4 linked regions of the Homo sapiens genome follow. The protein of the gene in region 4 purifies or fractionates together with the protein of the main gene of each other region. This does not show direct contact. Each region holds a gene or a part of one and is shown on either strand. Other genes may lie near its edges. The genes, in order: ATF1, CABIN1, ANGPTL7 and TFAP4.

Region 1 (7,797 bases), on a different chromosome or scaffold from region 4:
GTTCAAGCTTGCAGCATCATTGCCCTGGGGGCCAAGCCGTATCATAAAGGAAAATTATGTTTTTTCCATTCTGGCCAGAGCAAAATACGTGTGATAAAACAAAGACATTAGCCACTCCGCTTAGCACCCAATATCAAACTAGCAAGGCTTAAATTTGCCCCCAGATGGGCCTGTCATCTTTAATTCAACCTCCGACTTGGAGTTTCAACATGTGGCCTCTAGGTAAGATGGTTGCCCTGAGTAATAGAAAAAATAAGAAACGCAAAGTAGATAAGAAAAGTATTGCCTGTGGCAGGGTGGGGAAGCTGAAGAGCTTAGGGAGGCCAGAGAAAAGACCCACTCATTGCAGCCGACAATGAAAACCTCAGGCAGCCGCTTGTACGCAGCAAAGGGACCTTTTCCAGCAGTCCCATCAGCTCTCAAGATTCCCCTTTTATGGGGGGAGGGGGGAGGGATAGCATTGGGAGATATACCTAATGCTAGATGACGAGTTAGTGGGTGAAGTGCACCAGCATGGCACATGTATACATATGTAACTAACCTGCAAAATGTGCACATGTACCCTAAAACTTAAATTAAAAAAAAAAAAGACTCCCCTTTTAGAGAGGAAAAAGCTCCCCATGTCCCACGATCCTGTTCATGCCTAACTCTGTCACCCACAGCCATCAGCAAAGAGCGCAAGGCAGATTAATCCAAAGAGAACAGCAGTTAATATCCCATAGTGCCAAACCTGTTCTTAGCTGAGAGGGAGTTACCTGAGAGGGACTCTAACTCCCTATATCTTAGAAGGGCCTCCAACCCAAGGTCAGTCAAGCTTAAGCGTCCTTGCCTTTTATTAAGAGGGGCCTCGAACCCACTGTCTTAGGAGAGACTCCTAAACATAAATACTGGGTTTCCGCAGTATAGTCGCTTCTGTGGCCACCACAAATACGTTACAGGACCCCAACACTTACCCAAAGGTAGCCGTTGGGTCAGGGTTTCTGCACTATAGTCCCTTTGTGGTCGCCAGAAATATGTTACAGGACAGGCGTCCTGATCCAGGCCCCAACTGAGGGTTCTTGGATCTCGCGCAAGAAATAATTCAGGGCAAGTCCACAGTGCGATGTAAAAGTAACATTATGAAGAAAGTAAAGGAATAAAAAGAACGGCTACTCCATAGACAGAGCAGCCCCAAGGGCTGCTGGTTACCCCTTTTTACTGTTATTTCTCAATGATAGGCTAAACAAGGGGTGGATTAATCACGCCTCCCCTTTTTAGACCATATAGGGTAACTTCCTGACATTGCCATGGGATTTGTAAATGGCGCTGATGGGAGTGTAGCAGTGAGGATGACCAGGGGTCACTCTTGTGGCCATTTCAGTTTTGGCCGGCTTCTTTACTGCAACCTGTTTTATCAGCAAGGTCTTCATGACCTGTATTTTGTGCTGACTTGTCTCATCCTGTGACTTAGAATGCCTTAACTGTCTGGGAATGCAGCCCAGTAGGTTTCAGCCTCATTTTACCCAGCTCCTGTTTAAGATGGAGTTGTTCTAGTTCACACGCCTCTGACACCATCTCTATTTAAAAACAAACAAACAAACAAACAAAACAAAACAAAAACTGGCAAAGATAGCACACCCTATATTTAAAGTCAGAAGGGACTGCCACCTGCTGGTGATCGGGTAGGAATGGACAGATAGCTCACAGACCAAACCTAACCCTAAAAGATAACGGCAAGTATTAAAGAGCTAATACATTCGACTTTAGGGCAACAGTATTGATTCTAATTAAGACACGGAGATAACTGCATATGATAAACTCCAAGAAAAAAGAGCATTTTAGAAGAACGCATTTCTGTTAACAAAAACCTCAGGTTAAAATGCATTCTGAGACATAAATGCCTACGAACTCATCACAGGTGAGGCCAGTTTGACAAAGATGCCTGCCAGATCCACGCCGAGCTTCTGAACCCTAAAGGTTCTCAAAGACTACCAGTTGCCCAATCTCTTCAAAACACTAGCGCCACAACCAGACATTATTTCACATTGCAATCATTTCAAAGCGATTCAGCCGCCAGCTGCACGGCGTCGATCAAAGTGAGAAATGCCAGGCTTCGTTTTTTGACATACAAGATCAAAGAGAAAGTCACCCTCGGCTGGGTCGCCCATCCCAAAGGGTACAGACGCCCTTGTGTCATTCCTAGCCAGGGGTAAAGCCGCCTACTGTCCCCACTCTGTCTCCGCTGCCAGGCGCATCTCTCCAGGACTGTCTGGGGCGTGCGCAATGCCCGTGCGTCGGTTGCCCGCTAGACTGCAAGCTCCAGGAGGGTAAGGGGCGCGCCTCTTCCCTCAGGGTCGCCAGCGCCGACGCGCTTCGAGGACCCTGTCGCGGGGTTAACCAGACCCGGGCTCCGCTCGGCGGACACCGCGCCGAGGCCATATCCGCGCCGCCCTCCGCCCGGCTCCGGGCCCAACCTCGAGACCTCCCACGGAGAGCTAGCGCCTGCGACTGCAAAGGGCGGCTTCTGAGGCGAAAGCCACCCCGCGGCGGGCGGTTTCGGGCTTTACTTTTATTTGGGGGCGAGGGAAAGGAGGAGACGCACGACTGGAAGGGCGCAGCGCAGCTCTGCACCGAGGCGCGGAGGCCGGAAGCGCGGGCGGCCCCTCCCCCTGCCGCTGCGCCCCTCCCCCACCGCCACCACCGCGCGCGACCCCCACCAGGCGCGCGACCCGCGCTGCGTCCCCGCCGGCGCCACGTTCCCGCGTCCTTCCCCGCCCGGGCCACGGGGCACGTCCCTCCCCGCCCCCCACTTACCTGTGGCTGCCGCCTCGCCGCTCTCCGGGGCGGGAACTTCCACTCCCCCCTCCCAGGTAGATCCGAATTCACTACCCACTTCCCCACCCCCTCACGCAGCGGGGGACAAGCCTCCTTCTCGGGGGTCAGGCGGGGCGGGGAGAATCAGTGTCACTTAACAGCCAACTGTCCTAAGCTACCGTTTCCTCGGCAGTCAGGGCCGCTACTGGCGGCATGATCTACACAAGCCTGGGGGCGGGGGCGGGGGCGGGGGAGGGGAGGGGGGCAAAACTGAGCACTAGTGTGCGTTTGGGGTAGGCTATGGCGCTGCCTCCGCGCGGGCCGCCGTCCTGCGTCACCGCGCTGCCCACGTGACGCGCCGCCATCTTGTACGCGGTCCTGACTTGTGGCTAGGGGTTCCTCGGAACGCGTTCCTCAGGCTGCAGCGGGAGAGGGACGGTGCCTGCGGTTCCGTTTCTCCTTAGGAGCTGTACCCCACCCGCCCTACGTCCGCTTCCGGAGGCCATGAGCAGCTGGGTGCTCGCGGGGGGCGTTTTCATCGATTAGTGGCGGCGCTGTCAACTCACCTGCCAATTGACCTTGACCGACGCCGGCCCTGTCCTCTTGGAAGGAGAAATGAAGAGTGAAGGCTTTGACTTCCTCAGCTTTTTTTTTTTTTTTTTTTTTTTAGATGGAGTCTCTTTTTTTTTTCCGAGATTGAGACGGGGGTCTGTGGCCCAGGCTGTAGTGCAGTGGTTCGATCTCGACTCACTGCAGCCTCCAACCCCGGGATTCAAGCGATTCTCCAACCTCAGCCTATGGGGCAGCTGGGACCACAGGCGCGCGCTACCACGCTCGGCTTGAAGAGATGAGGACTCTATGTTGCTCAGGCTGGTCTTGAACTCCTGGGCTCAAGTGATCCTCCGCCTCGGCCTCTCAAAGTTCTGGGATTACAGGCGTGAGCCACCGTGCCCGGCCTTACTCAGATTTTTCTTAATCCCATAAAGTAACAATGAGTTGTGTCCTTTAACCCATGTGGAAGGATTTTCTACAGAAACGGATTTACAATGAGACATAACGATGTGGCCGGGCGCGGTGGCTCATGCCTGTAATCCCAGCACTTTGGGAGGCCCAGGAGGGCGGATCACCTGAGATCGGGAGTTCGAAACCAGCCTGACCAACATGGAGAAACCCCGTCTCTACTAAAAAATACAAAAGTAGCCGGGTGTGGTGGCGAATGCCTGTAATCCAAGCTACTTGGGAGGCTGAGGCAGGAGAATCGCTTGAACCCGGGAGGCGGAGGTTGCGGTGAGCCGAGATCGCACCGTTGCACTCCAGCCTGGGCAACAAGAGCAAAACTGTCTCAAAAAAAAAGAAAAAAGAAACGTAACAGAGTGTTAATAAAATGTTATGCCGTCATTTTAATGCATTACAAAAACTTCAGAATATTTTTGGGTCTACCTCTCTGGAAGGGAGTTATGCCTTATTCTTAATTTTTAAAATTTCCTTGTAAAATGCTGTTTTATGGCTTTAATGATAGTAAACGACAAAAGATAAACTTTTTTAGTATGCTCTTGACAAAAGTTCCGAAAGTTTTCTGAAATTTTACTAGTTTGAGATCCCCAATTTAGGAAACCGATTTAGTGGAGAGAGCTTTGCCTATTTTTGGCCCTTTGGGTCGGAGAATGTGATATAAAGCCGAAGATTTACTCTGCCAGACAGTCTTAAGAGGTCACTAACGTTTAGCTATTGACATTCAGCAAAAATTGTGGATTACCTATTAAATGCTAGACCAGGGGACAACTGTTATTAAGTCAGTGTTTCAGCATTACTGAAAGAAAAGTGGCCTATAAAGGTAAGGGAGAGGAAGAGTTTCTCAGATACCAGCCTTCGATGATTAACAAAGTCCAGCCTCAATCATTCTGGAATCCAGAATATTGATGGCTGGAAGGCTGGTTGTACAAGTTTATTGTTCTTTGGTGTTTGGTTTTTTCTTCCGTGGACCACAGAATGCTTAACAAAAGTTGATCAGTAAAAAGCGGGGGAGGGGCTAGGCGTCGTGGTTCATGACTGTAATTCCAGCACTTTGGGAGGTGGGGGAGGGCAGATCACCTGAGGTCAGGAGTTCGAGACCAGCCTGGCCAACATGGTGAAACCCCGTCTCTACTAAAAATACAAAAATTAGCCAGGTGTGGTGGCACACACCTGTAATCCCAGCCTCTCAGGAGGCTGAAGCATGAGAATCGCTTGAACCTGGGAGGCAGATGTTGCAGTGAGCCAAGATCACGCCACTGCACTCCAGCCTGAGCCACAGAGGGAGACTGTCTCCAAAGAAAAAAAATAAAAACCTGGAAATTTTATTGAAAAATGAAACCTTCAAAATGTGCCTTGACTACTTCTTTAGCTCCTCTTCCTTAGTGCCTTAGGTCTAAATCAAATGTTACGCTCGACCAGTCCTGGTGGCATGCGCCTGTAATCCCATCTACTGGGGAGGCTGAGGCAGGAGGATCATTTGAGCTCGGGAGTTTGAGGATACAGTGAGCTGTGATCATGCCACTGCACTCAAGCCTACATGACAGATGAGACACTGTCTCTAATTTTTTTTTTTTTTTTGAGATGGAGTCTGCCTCTGTCGCCCAGGCTGGAGTGCACTGGTGCAATCTTGGCTCGTTGCAACCTCCACCTCCCGGATTTCAGTGATTCTCCTGCCTCAGCCTCCAAGTAGCTGAGAGATTACAGGTGTGTGCCATCACAGCTGGCTAATTTTTGTAGTTTTTTAAGTAGGGACGGGGTTTCACCATGTTAGCCAGTCTTGGTCTCGAACTGCTGACCTCAAATGATCCGCCTGCTCAGCCTCACAAAGTGCTGGGATTACGAGCATGAGCCACGGCACCTAGCCTCTAAAATAATTTTTTTTAAAATTGTTTAAAAAACAACTCAGGCCGGGCACGGTGGCTTACGCATGTAATCCCAGCACTTTGGAGGGCGCGGTGGGTGGATCACCTGAGGTCAGGAGTTCGAGACCAGCCTGGCAAATATGACGAAACTCCGTCTCTACTGAAAATACAAAAGTTAGCCAGACGTGATGGCGTGAGCCTACAGTCCCAGCTACTCGGGAGGCTGAGACAGGAGAATCGCTTGAACCCAGGAGGCGGAATTTGTGGTGAGCCGAGATCGTGCCACTGCACTCCAGGCTGGGCAACAGTGAGACTCCATCTCAAAAAAAAAAAACAAAAACAAAAAACCACGACTCAGTTGACAGAGGAAAAGAAGAAAAAAAGTTATGCTTGTTCAACACTGCCCCTCAAAAATACTTCTGCTTTTCTTGTCTCTTTCTCATTGAAGTATCATAAACTGTGCCTACCAGTCTTCTGAACTGTGATAACTAGATGAAAAAAAAAAAGAGGTCTTGGTTCTGATGCATGCAGTTTATCTGAATAGTAAGTTTCATAAATCAGATGGACAGATCTTTAATATTAGAAGCAAGGAAAGTGAAACAAAGAAACTTAGAGCCATGGCCGGGCAGGGTGGCTCACGTCCTCCGTAATCCCAGCACTTTGGGAGGCCAAGGTGGGTGGATCACTTGAGGTCAGGAATTCAAGACCAGTATGGCAAAACCCTGCCTCTACCAAAAATACAAAAAATTAGCTGAGCGTGGTGGAGCACACCTGTGGTCCCAGCTACTTGGGAGGCTGCGGCAGGAGAATCCCTTGAACCCAGGAGGTGAAGGTTGCAGTAAGTCGAGATCGTGCCACTGCACTCTAGACTGGGTGACAGAGCAAGACTCCACCTCAAAAAAAAAAAAAGAAAAAGAAAAAGAAACTTAGAGCCGAAAGTAATTTTTTTTTTTTTTTTGAGACAGAGTCTTGCTCTGTCGCCCAGGCTGGAGTGCAGTGGGGGTATCTTGGCTCACTGCAACCTCTGCCTCCTGGGTTCAAGGGATTCTCCTGCCTCAGCCTCCTGAGTAGCTGGGATTACAGGCGCCTACCACTACGTCTGGCTAATTTTTGTATTTTTAGTAGAGATGGGGTTTCACCATGTTAGGCTGGTCTCGAACTCCTGACCTAAGGTGATCCGCCCGCCTCAGCCTCCCAAAGTGCTGGGATTACAGGTGTGAGCCACCGTGTCTGGCCAAAAGTAATTGTTTTTTTTAAAATAAACTGGGCAAGCCTGTGGTAGCACCACTTTGGCTCTTCTGGCACACTTTTTTGTTGTTAGAAAAGAGAGATGTGGCCAGGCATTGGCTCACACCTGTAATCCCAGCACCTTGGGAGGCCGAGGCGGGTGGATACCTGAGGTCAGGAGTTTGAGACTAGCCTGGACAACATGGTGAAACTCCGTCTCTACTGAAAATACAAAAATTAGCCAGGCGTGGTAGTGTGCACCTGTAATCCCAGCTACTCAGGAGGCTGAGGCAGGAGAATCGCTTGAACCTGGGAGGCAGAGGTTGCAGTGAGCTGAGATTGTGCCACTGCATTCCAGCCTGGGTGATGGTGCAAGACTCTGTCTCAAAAAAAAAAGAAAAAAAATTAACCAGGTGTGGTGGCATGCACCTGTAATCCCAGCTACTCGGGAGGTTGAGGCAGGAGAATCACTTGAACTCAGGAGGCAGAGGTTGCAGTGAGCTGAGATCACTCCATGGCACTCCAGCTTGGGCAACAGAAGGAGACTCCATCCCATTAAAAAAAAATTTTAAAAAAAGAGGTTATAATGAAATGGATTTAATAACACTGCCTATCCCATAGGGTTTTGTAGACTGAATTACTTTGATACACGTAAAGTTAGAGCTGTGCCTAGTATATAGTAAGCACTAAATAAATGTTGGATTTTTTTTTAGACGGTCTTGCTGTGTCGCCCAGGCTGGAGTGCAGTGGTGCACGATCTCAGCTTACTGCAGCCTTGACCTCCTAGGCTCAAGCCATCCTCCCACCTTAGCCTCCCAGGTACCTGGGACTATAGATGTGCAGCACCACGCCCAGCTAATTTTTTTTTTCTTTTTCTTTTTTTTTTTTTTTGAGATGGAGT
Region 2 (7,399 bases), on a different chromosome or scaffold from region 4:
AATATAATACATATCCATGGCCTACACTGACACATAAATAATCAAATAAATAAATAAAAGAGAGAGAGGGTAGTTCTCCTTTCAGTAGAACTTGACTTAATAATGTAGAAGGAAAGAGAGAAATAATTACCTTTAGGCAAACACCACAAAGATCTGCAGATGGATGCTAAAGTCAGGGAGCAAATTTGTGGAGAACGAGAATTTGTGTCCTCTCAATGTATCTCTCCCAAGAGACTTATTAATTAGAAAGGGATAGTAATTTTATGGTGTAGAAACCTGGTAGACACCAAGTAAACCAATAGATCAAGGTAAATATCACCAGTAATAAGACATTCCAATATCTTGGACTCCATGTGATGCACTGAGAAAGACACAAAGATAATGTGTCTTTGTGTTCTGGCCAACAATGCATAATCTCACCCCAATCATTAGAAAACACTGGACAAACCTTTAAATTGAGAGACGTTAGACAAAATAACTGATCACTACTCTTTAAAAGCATCAAAGCCAAGGAAAACAAGAAAAGACTAAGGAAGTGTTATGGACCAAGGAGAAATAACTAAATGCAACATGGGATCTTGGATAGGGTCCTGGAATGAAAACACAACCTTAATTTAAAAAATGGTAACATTCATATCACATCTGTAATGTAGTTAATAATACTGTACCAACACTAGATTTCTGTTCTTGATAATTGTATGATTATGTAAGATGTTAACATTAGGGAAAGCAGGGTGAAGGACATAACAGAGCGTTTTGTATTGTTGCAATTTTTCTCTAAATCTAAAATTAGTTTAAAAAGCTTAAAAAGAGGCCGGGCATGGTGGCTCACGCCTATAATCCCAGCACTTTTGGAGGCCGAGGCGGGCGGATCATGAGGTCAGGAGATCAAGACCATCCTGGCTAACACGGTGAAACTCCGTCTCTACTAAAAAATACAAAAAACTAGCAGGGTATGGTGAGAGGCGCCTGTAGTCCCAGCTACTAGGGAGGCTGAGGCAGGAGAATGGCGTGAACCCAGGCGGCGGAGCTTGCAGTGAGGCGAGATCGCACCACTGCACTCCAGCCTGGGCCACAGGCGAGACTCCATCTCAAAAAAAAAAAAAAAAAAGCTTAAAAAGAAATAACCATTTTGATTATATATTTATCATCTGTAAGCAATGTGAGGATGGTAACCATTTATGTATTGTTCACCATAAATCCAAGAAACTCACTAAAAGGAGCTTTTAAAAAAAAAAAAGCTATTGAGGCCGGGCGCGGTGTCTGACGCCTGTAATCCCAACACTTTCAGAGGCCGAGGCGGGTGGATCACCTGAGGTCAGGAGTTTGAGAGCAGCCTGACCAATACGGTGAAACCCCGTCTCTACTAAAAATACAAAAATTAGCCAAGCATGGTGGCGGGTGTCTGTAGTCCCAGCTACTCGGGAGGCCGAGACAGGAGAACTGCTTGAACCCGGGAGGCGGAGATTGCAGTGAGCCGAGATCATGCCACTGCACTCCAGCCTGGGCGACAGACCAAGGCTCCGTCACACACACACACACAAAAGCTATTGAATAATCATGAAAAAGAAAAATATCTATTCATTTCTGACTCCCAGCCCAGCAGCTGCATTTCCTCAGATAGCAGCACATTCACCAGGCTTATTAGTCTAAGCTAATAAGTTTCCAAACCCCTTAGAATATAGTTTCCATGGCCTCAGAACACGATAAAGAGTAGCACACCTTCAGACCTCAGCACCCTGATCCAGAGTGATAACTGGGGATGTTTCCTGGCCTGGAAGGTGGGAAGCCTATGTCTTAAGCTCAGTGGTGGCAGTGCCCTGGCTGTGTGACTGACTTGACATAGATGTCAGTCTCTCAGTCTGTTTCCCCTCATGTATGAGGCTTTGTACTAGATGAGGGTTCTGCAAGCTAACCAGCCCACCCTTTTTGTACAGCCCACGAGCAAAGAATGGTTTTTACATTTTTTCATATTTGGGAAAAAAAATCATGACACGTGAAAATTATATTAACAATATATAAAATTAAAACTTCGGTCCCTATAATTAAAATTTTATTGCGACGCAGCTAGTCTGTTATGTATTGTCTTTGGCTGTATCCACACTACATCGCTACAGTTAAGTAGACAGAGTATGGACCCCCCAAGCCTAAACTACTATTATGAATACTATTATACTCATTATACTTACAATATAACAATGTAAACACTGATATATTTACAACAAAAGTTTGCCGACCGCTGAACGAGACTGTTCTAAGCATATTCTATTTCTAACCACAATAATCACATAGAAAGAATCTTAGCCACATGGAATCCGACGGTCCCACACTTATAACCTGTAATAACCCAGGTCCTGAAGAGTTAAGTGACTCCCAAAGCCACTTGTGCAGATACCTTGGGAATGCCAGGTGAGTTCCATCTGGCCAGGGCCCGCCTCTTGCGGGGAGGCAGTGAAGCAGAACGGTCAAAATTTTCAGTCTGGAGTCGCGCTCACCCACTGGGTGACTTGGAGCAAATCATTTCACCTACCCGCGGCCTCAGTTTCCACCCCTGTAAATGGCACCAATAACAACACTCACCTCGCAGGGCTGCTGTGAAGGTGAAGCGAAAGGTCGCGAGTAAAGGGTTAGCGCGCTGGGCTTTGCACCCAGCAGACGCCAAATCAATGGTGGCTCCTGCGGTTACTGGGAACCTCCCCGGAGGCCGGAACCCATTCTAGGCACCTCAGGGCGGCGGCGAGAGCCATGAAGAGGCTCGCGAGGCAGCCAGGAAGCCCGGCCTCGGTTTCCCTGACTGGGGCTCTAAAGCTGCCCGCGAAACCCCCAGCTTCCTCACGTAACCCAGCCTCGCGCCTGCAGCCCCTCCGGCCTGTGCCCCGGGCTCTGCTGAGCCTCACCCCCACCCCGGCACCGCCTTCAAACCAGCCTTCCAGGAACTCACCAGGCGTCTCCACAGCAACGGCCAGTCTGTCCCGACCACCGCGCCGTCCGGCTGCGCGCCTGACAACAAGGCGTGCTCCCATTGGCTCCGGTGCCGGTTGTGCCAGCCAATCAGCGGGGGCGCACGCGCCGCTCGCTCTCCGCGGGCTGCTTAGCTGGGGCCCTGCAGACGGCTACCCTTGGGCGGCGCGCGCGCGCGTGCGCGCGTGTGTGCGCGTGTGTGCGCGCGTGCGCGTGTGCGTGTGCGTGTGTGTGTGTGTGTGTGTGTGTGTGTGTGTGTGTGTGTGTGTGTTGCGGGAGTGGAGCTTGTTGTTTCCGGATCCCCGTCGTCAGTCCTAGCGTGCTGGAGGCTTAGAGCACCAGCTCGTAGTCGGACTCTCTTCTCCACAGCTTGCACCCTGAGCAGTCACTAAATGATGGGCTGTGTGTTATTACCTGGGACATGTGCTCTGAAAACAGTGGAAACTTGGGGAACACTTAGAGCGGGGTGTCCAATCTTTTGGTTTCCCTGGGCCACGTTGGAAGAATTGTTTTGGGCCACACATAAAATACACTAACACTAAGGATAGCTGATAAGTTAATAAATAAATAAATAATAAAAATAAAAATCACCAAAAAATCTCAAAATGTTGTAAGAAAGTTTATGAATTTGTGTTGAGCCGCATTCAAAGCCAAGCAGACCAGCGCGTTGGAGAAACTTGACTTAGAGGGAACCAGGGAGGAGGAGCATCCTCATTCATTATATTACCTGTGCCTCTCTTTCCAAAAAGGATGTGAAGCCCAAAAGGAACAGATACAATAGGATATTGAAACAAAAGGAAAAAAAGGAACAAAACCTAGTAAATGAACAAGAAGAGGGGTCATGGGTGGTGTCAGAATTCCAGAGATGAAAAAAGGCGACAGAGTTGAAGGGGTTCTGTCAAGGGTCTTGGGCTGAAAGATGGTACTCTCTTGGGAGCTAGAATAACAATAAAGCATTGTAGGGAAGAACTTTACACTGTGGTTGAATTCATAGCTGCTTGAGTCTTGCACAGATGATTCAAATAGGAGTGAATGTTGGGGGCTTTTTAACCTCAAAGACAGTAACAGCATGGTGAAAAACTCAGTTCAGTACAATAAAGCTATACTGATAAGCTAGAAGTTCTGAAAATTGTTGAGTCACCAACCTTGACTTTGAGTATTGGGGTAAACAGTATTTGGGGGGTAAACAGAAGCATAAACAGATGGTTTCAAAGCTGCATGGATAACCTTCAGCCTCGGATACAGCTTCCACTCAAGCCTTATCATGAAAGATGCGCTGGAGAGAAACAGTTGAAAATAGGTGGGAAGGGTGGTCCAAGCAGCAAGAAAGTTGTGTGGGGAAGGTCCGGAGGTGAGAAACATGCAGATCATGCTGGAGTGTCATGCAGCACAGTGTTACCGTGAGGCAAAGCTCAGGGCCACAGTGGGGAGAGAGCACTCTGGAGAGTTAGGAAGAGGCCAGTCCAAACAAGCAAGCAGAAAACATATTGTTGCAGTCTTGCCCGTGCACCACAATGTACCAGTCTCTCATTGTGGGGTATCACCCAGAATTCTTTGTCTCACGACCAAGAAAATTAGGGAGTGTGGACACAAAGGGTAAGGTTGAAGCAAAAGTTTAATAAGCAAATGAAGAAAGCTCATTGCAGCTGGCGGGGGGCCCAAGCAGGTTGCCCATTATGAGGCTGGGTCAGGGGGTTTTATGGACTGGGAAAGGAAGGAATGTACTGACTGGTCTTGGAGAAAGCACTACTCAGCTTGGCCCCTGGACCTTGAGGGACCAATCAGGAGCTGAAGTGATAGCCTGGCCCAGGACCAATCAGAGGCTCACATTCTAAAGCACGTCCAAGAAAGGAAAGTGCCCACTGGAACCCACTGTAGCCCACCGTGTACATGTCCACAAAAGGAGAAGAGACTATTTCCTGGAAGCCCACTGGTTATACAAAGGACAAAGGCATTTCTATGCTGGGTCTTGTTCCCTTATCAAAGTAGCTGTGGGCATGCCTTAGGCACAAAGATCAAAGGTGTTTCTGTGTTGGGCATTGTTCCTTTATCTGAGTGAGCCAGAGGTTTGTGCAAGTTTCCTTATCTGTGCCTGAAGCCTGATTTTTCAGGCTGTTCCTCTGTTTAAAGGAGTTTTACCAAGGACCCACCTTAATTACCTAACTTTTCTCTCTCAATATCACTCTCACTACACTGAGGATGGCAGATTTAACATGGGGAATCTATATCAAAGACTGTGGCCTTATGGTCTTGGTGAGAGTTAGGCCTGAATCCCATCCATGGTGACCGCAACGATTCATTCATATCCAATGCAAGCATTCCCTGAGGCACTCTGGGAAGCAGGACACCATGAAACACACTGGCAGAGGAATGAGTGCAAAATACTTGGGTCAGGGGTCCAGGGGAAGGAACTCCAAGGTCTAGCTATCAATGAAAGTCCTTAGCAGTGGTTAGGTACAAACACACCAGGCACAGGCATATTCCATTAGAAATTGATTTTATTAACTACATAGACTGCACAGACTGAAAATCTGAATTTGGTGTTTCACTGGTACGCTAAAGATAAGGATCATCAAAGGTTTATGCAGGGAAACAGTGACCACCACGGTGTCCAAGGGTCATTAGAGGAAAATTCTGCATGGAACATGTGGAAAGCTACAGAAATGGAGACTCCCTATAGGCTCCCCCACACCACCCCTACATACTTTGACATTCAACAGACTGATAGGATATTTAGATAAGAGGGTGGGGACCTCATTCATTCAGTTTCAATGCAGTTTCGGCGCTGACATTGCATTTCCAGGTTTGGCATTCTGGGACATGGGTTTTACAAGGTGCCTAGCTACAGAGAATTATCAGCAAGAGTTAACAGAGAAGATGAAGTTCTCTGCCCAGGAATGCCCAGAGAAAGTCCCTGAAGACAAATCTGCCCTGTGCTCTGGCCCACTACAGCAGACTATGGAGAGGAAACAGCTCAGAACTAGTGGAGAAGGGCTGAGCAACTCCTGGAGGTCCAGAATTCTGGGGAGGGCAGGTGAGAGGAGCAGCAATGGGGCTTGAGCTCTTCCTGGACCTGACACACTATCCACTTTTGCAAGACAGAATGACATCCCTTTTGAGCTGTGGATGGTGGAGTTGGCTTGGGGTGAGCCAGGTGGCTGGGCTGGGCCCCATGGAGTGGGTGCCAAGGACCAGGCCCTACACTGAGCCTTCTCTCCTTTCTGCCCACCAAGGGAGCACCTGAAGCCTGAGTTCCTGAAGGTGAACCCCCTGGGGAAGGTGCCTGCCCTCAGAGATGGCGACTTCCTACTAGCAAAGAGGTAATGGTGACCTGGTGCCCACCCAGGGTCAGAGCCAGGATCTGCCTGGGTTCTGGGGCTCAGAGTTGTAGGGGGAGGCAGAGGCGAGAGGGGAGATCTTTCCTTGGCTTGGAGATCTTTCCAAATCACTGAGGCCCCTTCCTCATTTCAGCCTGTGTAGCTCCGATGCAGAGGCTGGACCCAGGGGCACCTTTGGGCTAAAGCTGGAGGCTGGAACCTGGCTAGAGTCTGAGCCAGCTGGAGCTGCCCAGGTGGGGAAAGGACGTAGGTCACCCGGATAAACCTGGACAACCTGAAGCCAGCGGGCAAGGCCCAGGCTTGAGGCTGGCTCCTCCCCAAATGTCCCCAGCTCATCCTTTCAGAGTCCTAGGAGCTGGGCAGACCCAGGGGAGACTCCACATTCAATCCCAGCTCACCACTTCCTCAATCCATGCCCTTGGGGAAATCACAGAACTTTGTGTGCCAGGTTTCTCCTCTGTAAAACGGAGTGGGAGGAATAATGTATCCACCTCCCAGGGCTTACCTGAGGATAGAAAATGGGCACCTAGTGTTCTGGGGCACTAGGAAGGGAACTTGGAGACCTTTTGGGCAGGGCCCACACGGCAGGCACTCTGAGTGGGGACCCTGATGCCAGGGAGTGGGGCCTGGGCACAGAGGGCAGGATGGTATGGTAACTGGGAGGGGAGGTGGAAACATGGGCCCAGGGAGGATCAGAGTTGGAAATGGAGAAACAGAGTGGTTTGGTCGTGGGGAGATACTGCCTGGAGGGAGTTGCAGTATAGGGGAGGTCCTCCCCTGAAGGTGAAGGTGGGGAGAAAACCTGGTCAAATCACCCTGAGTATGAGCAATGAAGCCACCTGGCCCTGACAGGCTGGAGAAAAGATCTCTGACACCCCCTGCCCACAGCATGGTCATCGTTTTATACCTGAGTCGAAAGTACCAGATACGGGGACACTGGTACCCACCTGAGCTGCAAGCCCGCACCTGCGTGGATGAGTACTTGGCGTGGAAGCATGTCACCATCCAGCTGCCTGCCACCAATGTCTACCTGTGCAAGGTGAGCTTCCTAGGCCCTGTCATGCAGGCTGGGGCAGGGGCCTGGACCCCCAGAGATGGAA
Region 3 (7,086 bases), on a different chromosome or scaffold from region 4:
GCTGCCCAGGAAGTCATCAGGAGGAAGCTTATACACTCCAGAGATGCGGTAGTTCTTCTGGTAGAGGGAAGAGCAGTCGTAGATGGCATCTACAAGAGAACAAACCACAGGGTGAGCATTTAGACCCAGTGGCTCCATCTGAGTTGAGTGTTTAGAGACTGAGCCTTTATTTCTACCCTGGGATTCTCAGTGGTGTTAATTACCCATCAGTGTCTGCATTTGGGAGAGGTGGATATGGGGAGATCCAGAGGGGGTGTATTTTGGCTTTACTAGCGGTGGAGCAGAGGGGTAGGGAAGCCCTTCACCTGGATAGCATTAGTGGGACGTTCCAACAGGTGGTTTCAGGTTAACTCTGAAATAAATTATTCTGCTATAGCTGGGCCATGAATTCTAGAAATGTTACAGTGTATGAGGGCCACGTAACAGATACTCCTGTCAGATAGATTCAGACTTCTTAGACAGCCGCCACTATAACAAATCAGTCGTGAATATCTCATAGAGTCTGGTTTTGTTGATGTTTCCTGGTTGGTTGTTTTTGTTGTTGTTCAGAGATGGTGGCTACTGCCACCTGAGACCATAATTAAGGGAGATAGATTTTATTATCACATATTTTCCCCTTCCATCCAGCTAGCACCTCAAAACACTCAGAAGAACCTTTGAGGCCTTCCTCCCAGAAGTTTTGTTAAAACAATGAAATGAGAGCATCAGACTGGCCAGTTTTTTTACTCTAGGGCCATGGAGCTGCTACTTTATGCAGGATTTAAGCTCTGTATTCTAAATATCAAAGAGCATAGTGGAAGAGACAGCCTTTTCTGATAGGATTCAGAGACTGCGGCCCTTACTATCCAAGAGAAGCTTCCTGCCTGCTATGTCTCGGGGTGCTTTTCTTGGTGACCACTGCACTGGGACCTTAGAGAGGAGCACCAAGATGGCAGATGGGAGTTGTCTGAGGCACATAGGTTCTCTTGCAGAGCACCTTGGGAAAGGGAGGTAGAGTACGTGTGCCTTCGCCATCACTATTCTTCATTTCGTCTTAGTGGTGAAAGCACCAACTTACTGCTTCCTCTAAGGGACTACCTACTTATAGAATATAAGGGTAACTGAGCACTTGGTCATAGAGAAGAAAAATAAGGAATGATGTCCTGGGCAAGAAGAGCAAGAGACCTGGTGGGAGAGCTGCACTTGACCCCAAGAACCTCCTTGCAGGATGGTGAGAAAGCCTCCTGTTTGGATGAGCAGGAAGTGGCACGGTCAGATTCCTCTGTCTGGCCTGGTCTTCCGCATGTCTGGTTTCATCTCACAGACCAAATCAGGACTCACTTGTCTGGAAAATGGCCTGAGAATACCTTTCTAATCCCAAACTGAGGGCCCGGAAGTCCATGCTTAGAAAGTGATTGATACATGTTGGTTCAGGTAACAGAATTTTCAAGCTTGGTTTCATGTTAAAACTTTTTCTTAATTTGAGCTGAGGTTAACCATTGACTTAGTCAGTAGAAGCTGATCATGTCTTTGTTCTTCATGTAGTTTATAATGGGACCAATGGTTTTTATATCAGCAAGAAATGACATGTCTATAGGATATGCTCCTTACAACTAATATTTTCCTGATAATTTCAGAAAACCAAATTTTTATCTCTAAACCGTAAATTCATGTTGGCCCACCTGAGCTGAGCTAACCAGAAATAAAAGTTATTTTGCAAAAGAAAGATTAAATTTATCTTATTTTTGGCCTATTAAGTCTATATTTCAGCATTGCATTTAAAAAATCCTGTATTCGGAGAAATTCATTTAAGACCATGGAAAAAAATAGACGTATCACAATTGAGGAACCTTAAGGAGCCGCATCCTTCCTGAACACAAAGGGACTCTTCACATGGTTATGTGTCTCTACACTTAACTCTGAGCCAATGAGAAGAGTTACGTTTACAGAGAGAGGACACAAAATTCCATTAATGCTCATTCCTGGTAAATCTTAGGAACACCAGAGAACTGTTTCTGGCAAAACTTTGCTTCCAGAGGAACAGCTGTTACAGTTTGGTGCTTCCTTGGAATTTCTTGAGATATAGCCTGTCAGCTCTTGGTGAGGAAGTAGCAGAGCTACACCAATCAGGAAGACTTGAACCCTGCTTCTAAGACTTGCTGGGTGACTTTGGGCAAACCATGTAGTATCTCAGCACTCCAAGATGGTAGGCTGAAACACTGTGTGGATAAAAGAGACCCGTGAAGGTGTTAGGTAAACTTACATAGCATTAGAAGTCAAAGGAAATACTGCATAAGCCTTTACTAAAGGGAAAGTGTACCCACAAAAGAGGCCCCAGTAGTGGTTCTGATGACCAGGATATGTAGAAGCAGTGCTGTAGATGGGGAGGCACTCCACGCTCCCTCAGGGGACTGGTCTCCTTACCTGCGGAGGTCTGAGTGACCGTCTGTGCTGCCTGCAGCTGCATGATGTCAATTTGGTTGTTCATCTCGGAGTACTTGCTCTCAGCATCTGTGAGCCGCGACTCCATGCGCTTGCTGTTGCTCTCCAGCTCCATCACCTGCATGACCACGCTGACCCAGTCCCTCTCCTGCTTCTTGTTCAGTTCACTCAGCAGGCTGCTAAGGTTGGCAACTTGGGCCTTGAGCTCCTTCACCTCCTCACAGCAGTTGGCCGCTTTGAGCTGTGGCTGTGCTGGTGTCTTGTGCTTAGAGAGCTTCTGCAGCCACGCTGGGTGGCTGACAAAGGCCACGATGAAAATGCAGAGCCAGGTCACAGCTGAGAGAGGCTTTTTCAGCATCTTTTGTGGGTTTGGGTGAGGAAGGCTCTTCCTTCAGGGGAGTCTGGAGATGCCCAGCTGAGGTCTGCAAAGCTGCAGCAGGCTGACTGAACCTTACGCTTTCACTCTGAGGGCCTCGCCACTTTGTTGTTTTCTCTCTTTCCTTGCTCTTTGCTAGCCTTTCTCAAAGCTTGAGTCTCTGACAGGGGAGCTGAATGGGTAGCCTATAGCTTTCCTTCCAAGCCCGAATGCTCCACAAGTCAGCATCTTAAATATTGTTTGCTGCCTGTACCTCCACCCCTACCATGGCTGCACCAGGCTTTAGCCCCTCCCAGCTCATCTGGGAGGGTCAGGTGCCTGTTGGGTGAAGTCAGCGGCAACTTAGGCCAGAGGAGGGGAGGAGGGAGATGGGGCGAGTCTTTCTTTCCTTGCCTGTACAGTCTCTGGGCTAAGACAAGAGGACTGTGAATTTGTGTGTTTCCAGTTTCGCCTATTAGATTATGCCCCTGCCAGCCACTGGCTCAACTCTATCAGCAAGCAGGACAGGGTCAGAAGAATTTCCAAATTCCGTTCAAAAGGTTATATAACCATGGGGTGAGCGTAAGGTAGGCGAAAGAGACGCTACTCACCCAGGGAGGCCTGTTAATGTAATCCATGCTGTTTATATGAGGATCTGGTATATTTTGACATCCTGCTGAATATGCTTTTATCTAGGCTGATTATTCCCATCTCTGATCATTATTTAGTATTTTATAAAATCCTTACTCAACCTGGATCTAACACTATCTCACATTTGAAATCTTCCAACTTAGAAAAGTTCTAGAAATAGAAGAATAGAGTAAATCTCTTAGGAAGCCAAAAAAAGACTTTGTAGCCACAGGGTTTGGACAGTTGTCTTTTTACATGCTTTCTCCTTCAACAAAGAGAGGGCCAGTATTAGCATATAACACTTGATATTTTGCAAGGAGGTGTCAGAAGATTACAACAGAGATGAAAACTCAGCAGTGCCAAGCATGTCTGGGATTGGTCACCCATGCTTCTGTCAGTTTCTAGGCAGGACAGAGAACAGGCCCATCCTTAGCCCGTGGTTCAAAACTTGGAAAATATATTAAAATATAGAGAAAAGAATCCCTGTCACCTAATAAATCCATATCTAGAGTCTCATTTCCCTCTTTCTTTGCTGGTATGGTTTGCAATTTGAAATTATTCCTCCTCTATTTGTATATGACTTTGTATCTAAAAAACATGAATATTGTAATTTTTCATGTACTATATATGAAGGACAATGCTCTTTTGAAAAGAAATGTGAAAAACATGGAGTTTCAGCAAACATCCTTAAAATAAGCTTTTCACTAAGAATCTATACAAAGGTTCCTCTGTCCTTAAAACAGTAACTCTGTCTTTGGAACATACGATTGCTGTTTCCATGTTATGGAGCCACTCAGGCAGTTACTTGTACTGTTGTAGTCAGCGTGGGTCCTTCCCACATAAGCCTGATGCCTGACAGCTCTCCTCCCATGCCATAATCCCCCAGAGCTCTTTTCCAGTCAGGGCTTCTAGCTCCTCAGAAAGTAATTTCTGTTCAGGCAGCTGGAGTTACTGAACAATTTTTTTTTTTCTCAGAATCAAAAAGCAGTGGAGGATCAGGTGGATCAGAGTTTGTTTTCTCACATACCCAGCCTCCTTTGCCTGCTAAAGGGTGAGGATGTTACTGATACCCTTATAGCAACTTGGCATTCTAATCAAAAGATTCTGTTGAGAATTGGCACTGTCTGCCAGTCTGCTCTCTTTTTGCAAATGTCTAGCCCAGCTGGGCACCACAGCCTTAGCTCCATAGCATTCATTTTAGTAACGAGACTCTGGCCCCAAATATTGGCATCCTACAAGGTCTGCTAAAAATAGGGATTTTCAAGTGGATCTCCTGGCCATCAAATGACACTGAGCTTAAACCACATGCCACAGAAGTGCTATGTACCATACAGTCATGTATAGCAGGGGTCCCTAATCCCCAGGCTGCAGACCTGTACTTGTCCATGGCCTGTTAGGAATAGGGCCATACAGCAGGAGGTGAGTGGCAGGTGAGTGAGCATTACCGCCTGAGCTCTGCCTCCTGTCAGATCGGTGGCAGCATTAGATCCTCACAGGAGTGTGAACCCTGTTGTGAACTGCACATGTGAGGGATCTAGGTTGCGTGCTCCTTGTGAGAATCTAAGTACTGCCTGAAGATCTGAGGTGGAACAGTTTTACCTCAAAACCATCCCCCATCTCCCCACCCCCACCCTGGTCCATAGAAAAATTGTCTTCCACGAAACCAGTCCCTAGTGCCAAAAAGATTGGGGACCACTGATGTATAGCATCCCACGTGACCCTGCTGCCTTGGAACTCTCATGTAACAGTGCAGCAGAGAAAGCACAAAAGAACAGTGGAACTTTGTGGAGTTCTAGCCAGCTTTTGTTTATTCTTCCCAGTAGCTCACCCAAACAGGAAAGTGTTATGAATTGATTCTTATATGTGGGCAGAAAATAAATTAATCATTCATATTTGTACCCCATGTAACAGTCCCTTTTAGGAAAGGTAGGAGGAGGTTCGTAAGTTTGTATTGGAAGCATCTAGCCTTTAGCATGAGTGTCTGGTCTTTGACATTTATTTTCTGGAAACTTATTTCTAACATAAGGCAATACTTGAAGACAGAAGACAGAAGCTCTTGAATTGCATAAGCTACCCAAATGTCAATACTCACCCCCCCTCCAGTTTTGAGGAAAAATAGCTAATTAAGGATATTTCTCATGCCAGAAGATTATCTATTTTCTAAAACATCCACAACCTTATGATGTCCTAGATTCTGAATATCTAAATGAAGGAAAAAGAAGTCCTTGTTTTGAGCACAGCTAAGCCAGTAGAGAAAACCATGAAGGATGTGGAGGACTAAAATGGTATTGCCTTCTCTGAAAGAGGCTTTTAAATCCTTCTTCTGCCTTTCAGTGAGCAGAGTGACCTTAAAAATGGGAATTAACTGACAAAATCTGGAAAACCTAGGTTGGATACTGTTTAGATTTTCCTTTTCTCCATTTTGCTGGTGTTGAAAGAGGGCTAGCTTGGTGCTCCTGGAAAAGGTGTTTATGAAAATTAAGCTTTTGTTCTTAATGAAAAAAGTCAGTGAGGTTGTACTCAACCTGGAGGTTCTCAAAAGACTTCACAGTGTTTGGGCCGCACTGCCTTGGGCTGGCACCAAGGTAGTCTGAGGGTCACAGGGCAGGGGAGCACCTAGGGGTGGTCTCTCCTTCTATCCAGAGAGGAGCATCAGATCCCATTTGCTTGAAAATGCCCCGTTGGAGAGACTGCTGCCCACTCTCAGCTTGTGGAATGAATACATCTCAGAAGAAGCTGCCTTGCTGTTAGTTTTAATTGTGTATCTCAAAGGAATATTTCACTTCTTCTGAAGTCTTTGAAAAAACCACAGCCTGCCATACTCTATACAGCCGTTGAATATCTGCCTTTTTTTTTTTTTTTTTTTTTTTGAGACGGAGTCTTGCTCTGTCGTCCAGGCTGGAGTGCAGTGGCACGATCTTGGCTCACTGGAAGCTCTGCCTCCCGGGTTCACGCCAATTCTCCTGCCTCAGCCTCCCAAGTAGCTGGGACTACAGGCACCTGCCACCATGCCCAGCTAATTTTTTGTATTTTTTAGTACAGGCAGGGTTTCACCATGTTAGCCAGGATGGTCTCGATCTCCTGATCTGTTGATCCACCCGCCTCGGCCTCCCAAAGTGCTGGGATTACAGGTGTGAGTCATCATGCCCGGCCACATATCTGCCTTTCTAGCACTCCATCCCATTCCTGTCTCAACTGAAAGTCCAAGTCCATCACAGAAGATATTTCCATCTTTTCCCTGAGCTTTCTAATTTGCCACTTCTATCAAAGAATGTGTCCTGAACCTATTAGAAGTCTTTTCTCTCAGGCCTTCTCTTAGAGTCCTGTTTTGTTTTGTTCTGTTTTGTTTTGTGACAGGGTTTCACTCTGTTCAGGCTAGAGTGCAATGGGGCAACCATGGCTCATTGCAGCCTCAACCTCCCAGTCTCAAGTGATCCATCCACCTCAGCCTCCCGAGTAGCTAGGACTGCAGGTATGCACCACCACACCCAACTATCTTTTTTTCTTTCTTTCTTTCTTTCTTTTCTTTTTTTTTTTTTGTAGTGATGGGGGTCTCACTGTGTTGCCAGGGCTGGTCTCGAACTCCTGGGCTCAAGTGATCCTCCAGCCTCAGCCTCTCAAAGTGCTAGGATTACAGGCATGAGCCACCACACCTGGCCAGAGTCAGTTTTAAATTATGG
Region 4 (7,734 bases):
CATCTCTACTAAAAATAAAAAAATTAGCCAGGCATGCTGACACATGCCTGTAATCCCAGCTACTTGGGAGGCTGAGGCAGGAAAGTCGGTTGAATCTAGGAGGCGGAGGTTGCAGTGAGCCAAGATTGCACTCCATTCTGGGTGACAGAGTGAGACTCCGTCTCAAAAAAAAAAAGACTGAGTGTCATTTTTACAGCTACCAGGCACTTGCCATACCCATAGCTAATTTTCTCACAGGTGCTCTGTTTCCCAGAGACTGAGAACCATTAGGCGACAGGTCCAAAACCTGCAGCTTGTGTGTGCAGCACCGTGCCCTACAATCCCCTCTGGCAGGCCTGGGAGACAGAAAGACAGGGAGATCCCTGCTGGTCACTGAGGGATGGAGCAAAGCCCACCAGCCTGAGATGACCCTGAGAAGCAAATGCATCTGGCCAGAAGGTCCTGCCTAATGAACACATTTGATCCCAGACTGGCTTCCCACCTCACCCTGCAACCCCTACTGAAGGTAAACAAATCCAGGGACCCCCAACTCCATGCCTAATGCACAGCTGACAACTGTCTTGCAATGGACGTTGCCATGTCCAACCCTGGACGAAGGCCCTACACCTTCAAGTCCTTGGCCTACCAAGATCCAGCTACCCTGGGGGACTGCTGGTATGCTCCAAAGGAACGCTTGGGGCAGGGATAAATTGAAGCCAGAATCTCAGGGGGCCCTGAGAGGACTCACCCAAGGCCCAGGCATGGCAGCCAGAGGGCCCCCCAACCCTGCCCAGGATCAGGCCCAGAATGTCTTCTCCAGTAGGCACAGCGGCTCAACTGCACCTCCGCGCTGCCCAGCCCAGCCCTGCAGCAGCAGCAACCCCAGGACAAGGGTTCAAGTTCCAGTTCCACCACCTGCTGTAGTGGTCCCTTCTCCAGTCTCTGTGTCCGCCTCTTTAAGCGGAATCAAAAGACACTTTTGACTCATAGAAAGATTATGACAACTCAGTGAGAAAATTCTAGCAAAGTGAGTCCCCAGAACATAAAAAGAGCTCAAGAATTTTTTTTACTTATTATTACTGGGCCCTCCAGGTGGGCCTCGTGCAAGGGCCAGCCCTCGGGGCATCCCTGCCAGCTGCCAAACCCATCAACTGGCCCAAGTCTAGGTATTGACTGGGAACTTCAGAGTAGCCTTAAGGTGGGGACCCCCGGGGCAGAGGGTTGGGCAGGAGTGTCTACACGTGTGCAGCAACCTTCCCTCCAGGCCGGATTCTGCAGGCGCTAGCGTCCACCAGCCTGTGCCACACCGGCGGGCTCCTCCTCCCTCAATCCCCGCCCAGACTGCCTCGGGCGGCAGAGCACGTGGCTCCAGCCCTGGGGAGCCATTTCGCTCCTGGAGCAGCGCGGCAGGAAAGGGGCCACAGGTCCCAAACTTGCGCACGCCGTAGAACGCCCACCTCCCCCACACCACGCCCAGGGGGTCGTTCAAAATGCAGATGTCCGGGCCCCAGCGATCAGAGTTCCAGGCATGTGCATTTTAAGAAGTGTGCGGGGTGGTTTGGCTGTGTGTGGTCCTTGAGTCCATCACCCTTTGGGTTTAGAGCAACCTAGGACCAAAGCTTGCAAAGTGGCTTCTGGGGAGGCCTGCGGACCTCGGGCCACCCACCCGGCTGGGGGACCCGACGCTTTCGGTTTACGGCAGGGGGGAGGGGCGTTGGATGGGAAAGTTTGCAGAGGAAACCCACGTGCGGCGGGAAGCTGCCCTGCGAGGCTAGGGGCGGCCTCAGGTGTCCCTTCCCCAAATGGCCTGCCCACCTGGCCTGCCTTGCCCATCGTGCCCGCGGGGGCCGAGCTTTGTGCAGGGAAAGCGTGGCCCAGGAGCGCCTACAAATCCCACAATGCTGCACCAGCAGGACACGGAGAACTACAGCTCCCGCGAGGCCGCGCGCAGAGGTCCGCCTACTCCAAGAGGGCTGCAGAGTCACGTCCAGGCCTCGCTAGTAAACAGCGCCCGGGCGCGGGCGGGCGAGCGAGCGGCAGCCAACGTGCCCCGGGCCGCGGCGCCCCTACCGGCCGCGCGGGCCCCTCGGGGTCCGCCCACCCCCAACACCCACACGCGAGCACGCCCCCGACCCCGCTGCAGCCCCGCTCTGCAAACACGCACAGTGCCCGGCTCCCCGCCCCCACCCCGCGCCGGGAGCCGCGGCATGGCTGCATTGTAGCCGCCCTAGCTACACCCCCACGCGCGCCCCGGGCCCCCAGACCCCCTTGGATGGGGACGACCTCAGATCCCGAGGAAGGAAGGAGAGGAAGGAAGCCGCCGCAGGAGGGGGAAAGAGGAAGCGCGGGGGGGAAGGCCACCAGCACCAAGCATGGCCGGGACTGCTGCAGAACCACGTGGGTCTGTTTGCAATTTACAAACGTCGCGACTCGCCCGCCTGCAGCGGACAAAAGTGGCCGGGGCCGCTTGGGGCCCCCATGCTCCAAGGAAGGAGGGTCCCGGGGCGGCGCGGACCCGGCGTGTGGGGCTGCAGCCGTCCCGGCAGCTAAGAAAGGCTAGCGGGGTCGGCGGCGCGGGCCATGCGTGCGCACACGCGCGCCCGCCCGGGCGGGCTGGCCGGGGGCTGCAGTGGTAGGAAGGGGGTGGGGGGAGGAGGAGTACACACCTACAGAGCCCTCCTATCACTTCTTTCTCTGTTTTCCTGAAATGTTGCAAAGAGGGCACCTTCTGAGTGGGCACCATGAAATACTCCATAGCGATCGGCCCCCCTCCTCTGCACGAGCCAGGTCCCGCGATCAGCCGGAGAATGCAAGATGGAAATCCGAATCAAAGGGCAGCGCCGGACGGAGGTGCAGAATCGGCCGGTCCCAGATGCTGGCGGCGGCGGCGGCGGCGAGGGGAGGGAGGCGGGCGGGAGGGGCGGGAGGGAGGTCTCTCCGGCCTGCCTCCCCGGGCGTGTGTATGTGTGTGTGTGTGTGTGTGTGTGTGTGTGTGTGTGTGTGTGTGTGTGTTTGCAGCTGATCAGATGTCTGTTTCAAGGCGGGAAACAGCTGGTGAAAACTCAGCACTCCCCCGGCCTCCTTCCGCGGAGTAAGGAATTGCATGTAAACAAAGGACTATTTGCAGCGCCCCCCGGGCGGCGCGAGGCCGGGGCGAGAGGGGCGCGGGCCCCCGGGGACCGGCTGCAACCGGGGTCTGCAGGCCTCTCGCGGGGCGCAGGGGGCCGGGGGCCGCGGGCGGGCTTGCGGGGCGCGGCGTGAATGGAGCGAGCTGCGGCCGAGCTACATGCGCCACTATGGGTGATGAGGTCCATCAGCTGACAGGTTGGCAAGCGTTGCAAAAAAAAAAAAAAAAAGGCCAGCCACCGCGCAGGGAGCCCAGCCCGTGCAGCCCGGAGTCCAGCAGCGACTGGCCCAGAGCAGGGTCCGCGCGCTCGGCCGGCCCGCAGGGAGGAGGGGGCGCGGCTGGGTCGGGCGTGCAGCGGCAGCAAGGAAGGCGGCCTGGGGTTCGCGCTTGGGGCTTCTGCTTTTTCACCATTGCAGCTGCACGGAGCGGAGCCTCTCCGGTGTGCTCCCTTCGAGCCGAGCCCAGGGCCCCCTGGAAACTTGCGTCACAGCCACCGCTTCCCACATGTAACTCGGGGCTGACTTCGGAGGCCGGCCAGCTTCCTCCCTCCCGCCTTGCTTAGCTGGCCGCACGGCCGGGACTCCGGATCCTGGGAATCTTGGACCCGGCGACGGGACGGCAAAGGGCGCCTCGGATGCTGGGGCCGCCCTAGGAAGCCGGGGGCCCCGGCAGGGAGGGGAGGGTGGAGGCGGGCCTGAACGGCAGCGGCCCCCGGGCGCAGGCTGCCAGCGCTGCGGGGAGGTCTGCTGGTTGCTGCCGGGTCCCCTGCTATTCCCCCAGACCCGCACTGTTCCCTCCGCGGGCTGAAGGCTGCAGCTTCCCATTCATAACAAAGCCCGTGTGGGACTTGCCCCTCCGCCAGGATGCGCTCCCCAAGAGGGGGTGACGACTTGGGGCAGGGACGGGGACCCTGGCGGCGAGCTTCCGTCCTCCGCTCGCACGCCGCACCTTCCGGCCCCAGGCCCTCCCCTGGCTCCTGGAGGGTTGGCTCCTGGCTCAGGAAGCCCACGCCTGCCTTGGAATGTCCTGGATCCTGCCCACCGCCTTCCAGGTTCCGCCTAAATCGCGCCTCCTAATTTGACTTATTCCTACTAGTAACAATAGTTACTGTTATTATTGGGAAATATTGTTATTAGATGTTGCCAGCACCCGGTGGATGCCGAGCAGTTTTGCTTACACGCTCTCCAATCCTTGAAGCAACCTGTTAGGCAGTTTCTCTAAGGAGAGATCCCAGACCACTTGACCAAAAAAAAGTCTCTGGAAGGCTTACTATGTTTCTACTTAAAAAAAAAAAAAAAAAAAAAAAACTTTCGGCTGGGCGCGTTGGCTCACGCCTGTAATCTCAGCACTTTGGGAGGCTGAGGCGGGTGGATCACCTGAGGTCGGGAGTTCGAGACCAGCCTGACCAACATGGAGAAACCCCGTCTCTACTAAAAATGCAAAATTAGCCGGGGGCCTGGTGGCACATGCCTGTAATCTCAGCTACTCGGGAGGCTGAAGCAGGAGAATCGCTTGAACCCGGGAGGTGGAGGTTGCAGTGAGCCAAGATCATGTCATTGCACTCCAGCCTGGGCAACAAGAGTGAAACTCCGTCTCAAAAAAAAAAAAAAAAAAAAACCTTTTTACTGTTTTTCAACAAATAGAGATAGGAGTCTCACTGTGTTGCCCAGCCTGGTCTTGAACTCCTGGGACTCAAGGAATCCTACCTCTACCTCCCAAATTGCTGGGATTACAAGCATGAGCCATGGATGGCCCTGGTGGGAAGCCTATTTTTAACTGCCCTTAGTGAGCAAGCTATTCTTTTTTTTGTTTTGTTTTGTTTTGTTTTTTAAGACGGAGTCTTGCTTTGTCACCCAGGCTAGAGTGCAGTGGCACGATCTCGGCTCACTGCAACCTCCGCCTCCTGGGTTCAAGTGATTCTTCTGCCTCAGCCTCCCAAGTAGCTGTGGTTACAGGCACACACCACCAAGCCCGGCTAATTTTTGTATTTTTAGTACAGATGGGATTTTGCCCTGTTGGCCAGGCTGGTCTCAAACTCCTGACCTCAGGCGATCTGCCCACCCCGGTCCCCCAAAGTGCCAGGATTACAGGCATCAGCCACCTCACCCAGCAGTGAGCAAGCTATTCTGGTGCATTACTGTCTCCTTATCCTCTCATTTTGCACATGGGAAGACAGAAGCTCACAGCTGCAGACAAGAATGCACTCAGGAGTGCTGGCTGCAAAAAGCCCTGGTTCTTTATATCACACTCATCCTCCCACCTGCCACACCTCACCTCTGATCAGGGCCTTATTTTGTACTTGCTTTTGTTATTTTCCAGAGCAAAGCATTCTGTCATACTTAGTTATATGTGGCCTTCAGAGTGTTCTCTGGCTGTCTCCCTGGTTCAATTTTTTTTTTTTTTTTTGAGACGGAGTCTCACACTGTCGCCCAGGCTGGAGTGCAGTGGCGCGATCTCGGCTCACTGGAACCTCTACCTCCCAGGTTTAAGCGATTCTCCTGTTCTCCTGCCTCAGCCTCCCAAGTAGCTGAGATTACAGGCGCCTGCCACCAGGCCTGGCTAATTTTTGTGTATTTTTAGTAGAGACGAGGTTTCACTATGTTGGCCAGGCTGGTCTCGAACTCCTGACCTCGTAATCCACCTGCCTCCGCCTCCCAAAGTGCTGGGATTACAGGCATGAGCTACTGCACCTGGCCTCCTTGGTCCAATTTTGTCTCCCAGAGACGAGGGACTGTGCTTTTACTCTTTTCTCTCTTCACGGGGGATGGTACAGGGCTGGGCACATGTGTGAACTGCAGAGAGTGATCTGCAAAGCTGATATCCCTGGAGACAGCCTTGGCAGAAAGGATGAGAGGGAGACCCTAGGCACAAGTGGGTGGCCCAGGCAGACCCGGGAGCTGGCTGCCCACACTGAACTGGGTAGTAGGCACTCATCCCCTCTCCTAATAAATCAAGGAAGCCCCCGCAAAGCAGCGGCATTTGGAGTCCGGCCAGGGGATGGCAGAGACCTGCTTTTTCATTTGTCTTGGAAGTCATTTCTAGGCCCACACAGAATCTGGTTCCTGGGGCAAGAGTTGACATCGCAAAATGTAAGAGAGTGACAAAAATTTCAACACCCAAGATAAATTATGTTGGGTTTTCTTTGTTGTTATTGTTGTTTTTTTTTGAGACAGAGTCTCGCTCTGTCACCCACGCTGGAGTCCAATGGCGCAATCTCGGCTCACGGCAACCTCCGCCTCCCGGGTTCAAGTGATTCTCGTCCCTCAGCCTCCTGAGTTGCTGGGACTACAGGAGTGCGCCACCATGCCCAGGTATTTTTTGCAATTTTTGTAGAGATAGGATCTCACCATGTTGCCCAGGCTGGTCTTGAACTCCTGACCTCAAGTGATCCACCAGCCTTGGTCTCCCAAAGTGCTGGGATTACAGGCATGAGCCACCGCGCCCAGCCTCAAATTACGTCTTAATTTAACATTTTAAAACATCAAAATTGGCTGGGCACAGTGGCTCATGCCTGTAATCCCAGCACTTCGGGAGGCCCAAGTGAGTGGATTGCTTTAGCTCAGGAGTTCAAGACCAGCCTGGGCAACGTGGTGAGACACCATCTCTATAAAAAATATAAAAGAATTAACTTGTCGTGGTGATGTAGTCCCAGCTGTTCGGGAGGGTGAGGTGGGAGGATTGCTTGAGCCCAGGGAGGTTGAGGCTGCAGTGAGCTGTGATCGTGCCGCTGCACTCCAGCCTGGGTGACACAGCAAGACCCTGTCTCAATAAAATAATACATAAATAAAATAATAAAATAAAATAAAATAAATTACTGCCAAAAATCCATACTAAACACACTCTCCACATTTTAATGACTATCTCAGTATTACTGATTTTTCCCTTTCCCTCAGGCTTCAGTATAGCTCTCCAAGACACTGTTGCTGATCCTTAGCTTTAAATTCAAATAATGGCCAGGCACAGTGTCTCACACTTGTAATCTCAGCACTTTGGAAGACCGAGGCAGGAGGATCCCTTGAGGCCAGGAGTTGGAGACCAGCCTGGACAACATAACCAGATGCTGTCTTTACAAAAAAATAAAAAAAAATTAGACTGGCACGGTGGTGCATGCCTAAAGTCCCAGCTACTTGGGAGGCTGAGGCAGGAGGGTTGATTGAGCCCAGGAGTTCAAGACTACAGTGAGCTATGATCACGCCATGGCCCTTCAGACTGGGCAACAGTGTAAGACCCTGTCTTAATAATACATTTTAACTGGGAGTCCAAAGTAGGTAGATCACAAGGTCAGGAGATTGAGACCACCCTGGCTAACATGATGAAACCCCATCTCTACTAAAAATACAAAAAAAATTAGCCAGGCATGGTGGTGGGCACCTGTAGTCACAGCTACTTGGGAGGCTAAGGCAGGGGAATCGCTTGAACCCGGGAGGTGGAGGTTGCAGTGAGCCGAGATCGCACCACTGCACTCCAGCCTTGGTGACAGAGCGAGACTCCATCCATAAAATAATAATAATAATAATAATAATAATAAAATTTTAAAAATTCAAAGACTGGGCCAGGCGTGGTGGTTCATGCCTGTAATCCCAGCACTTTGGGAGGCAGAGGCAGACAGATCACTTGAGATCAGAAGT

The links.
Region 1: the proteins of TFAP4 (region 4) and ATF1 purify together in Homo sapiens (affinity purification with mass spectrometry; 2 studies listed by BioGRID and IntAct, with this or other methods). This does not show direct contact.
Region 2: the proteins of TFAP4 (region 4) and CABIN1 purify together in Homo sapiens (affinity purification with mass spectrometry; 3 studies listed by BioGRID and IntAct, with this or other methods). This does not show direct contact.
Region 3: the proteins of TFAP4 (region 4) and ANGPTL7 purify together in Homo sapiens (co-immunoprecipitation; 3 studies listed by BioGRID and IntAct, with this or other methods). This does not show direct contact.

What each region holds. Positions count from the first base shown.
Region 1 is NC_000012.12:50,759,304-50,767,100, reverse strand, and holds the start of ATF1 (cyclic AMP-dependent transcription factor ATF-1), read right to left. Parts: upstream 3,001-7,797; 5' UTR 2,794-3,000; intron 2,775-2,793; exon of another isoform or gene 2,697-2,774; intron 2,632-2,696; exon of another isoform or gene 2,547-2,631; intron 2,523-2,546; exon of another isoform or gene 2,177-2,522; coding exon of another isoform or gene 2,109-2,176; intron 1,051-2,108; exon of another isoform or gene 954-1,050; intron 413-953; exon of another isoform or gene 1-412.
Region 2 is NC_000022.11:24,006,910-24,014,308, reverse strand, and holds the start of CABIN1 (calcineurin-binding protein cabin-1), read right to left. Parts: upstream 3,006-7,399; 5' UTR 2,942-3,005; intron 2,940-2,941; exon of another isoform or gene 2,581-2,939; intron 2,552-2,580; exon of another isoform or gene 2,396-2,551; intron 1-2,395. UniProt on the Homo sapiens protein: May be required for replication-independent chromatin assembly. May serve as a negative regulator of T-cell receptor (TCR) signaling via inhibition of calcineurin. Inhibition of activated calcineurin is dependent on both PKC and calcium signals.
Region 3 is NC_000001.11:11,185,273-11,192,358, reverse strand, and holds the start of ANGPTL7 (angiopoietin-related protein 7 precursor), read right to left. Parts: upstream 3,005-7,086; 5' UTR 2,780-3,004; coding exon 2,404-2,779; intron 90-2,403; coding exon 1-89. UniProt on the Homo sapiens protein: Has a role in the formation and organization of the extracellular matrix.
Region 4 is NC_000016.10:4,270,013-4,277,746, forward strand, and holds the start of TFAP4 (transcription factor AP-4), read right to left. Parts: upstream 3,012-7,734; 5' UTR 2,735-3,011; coding exon 2,646-2,734; intron 1-2,645.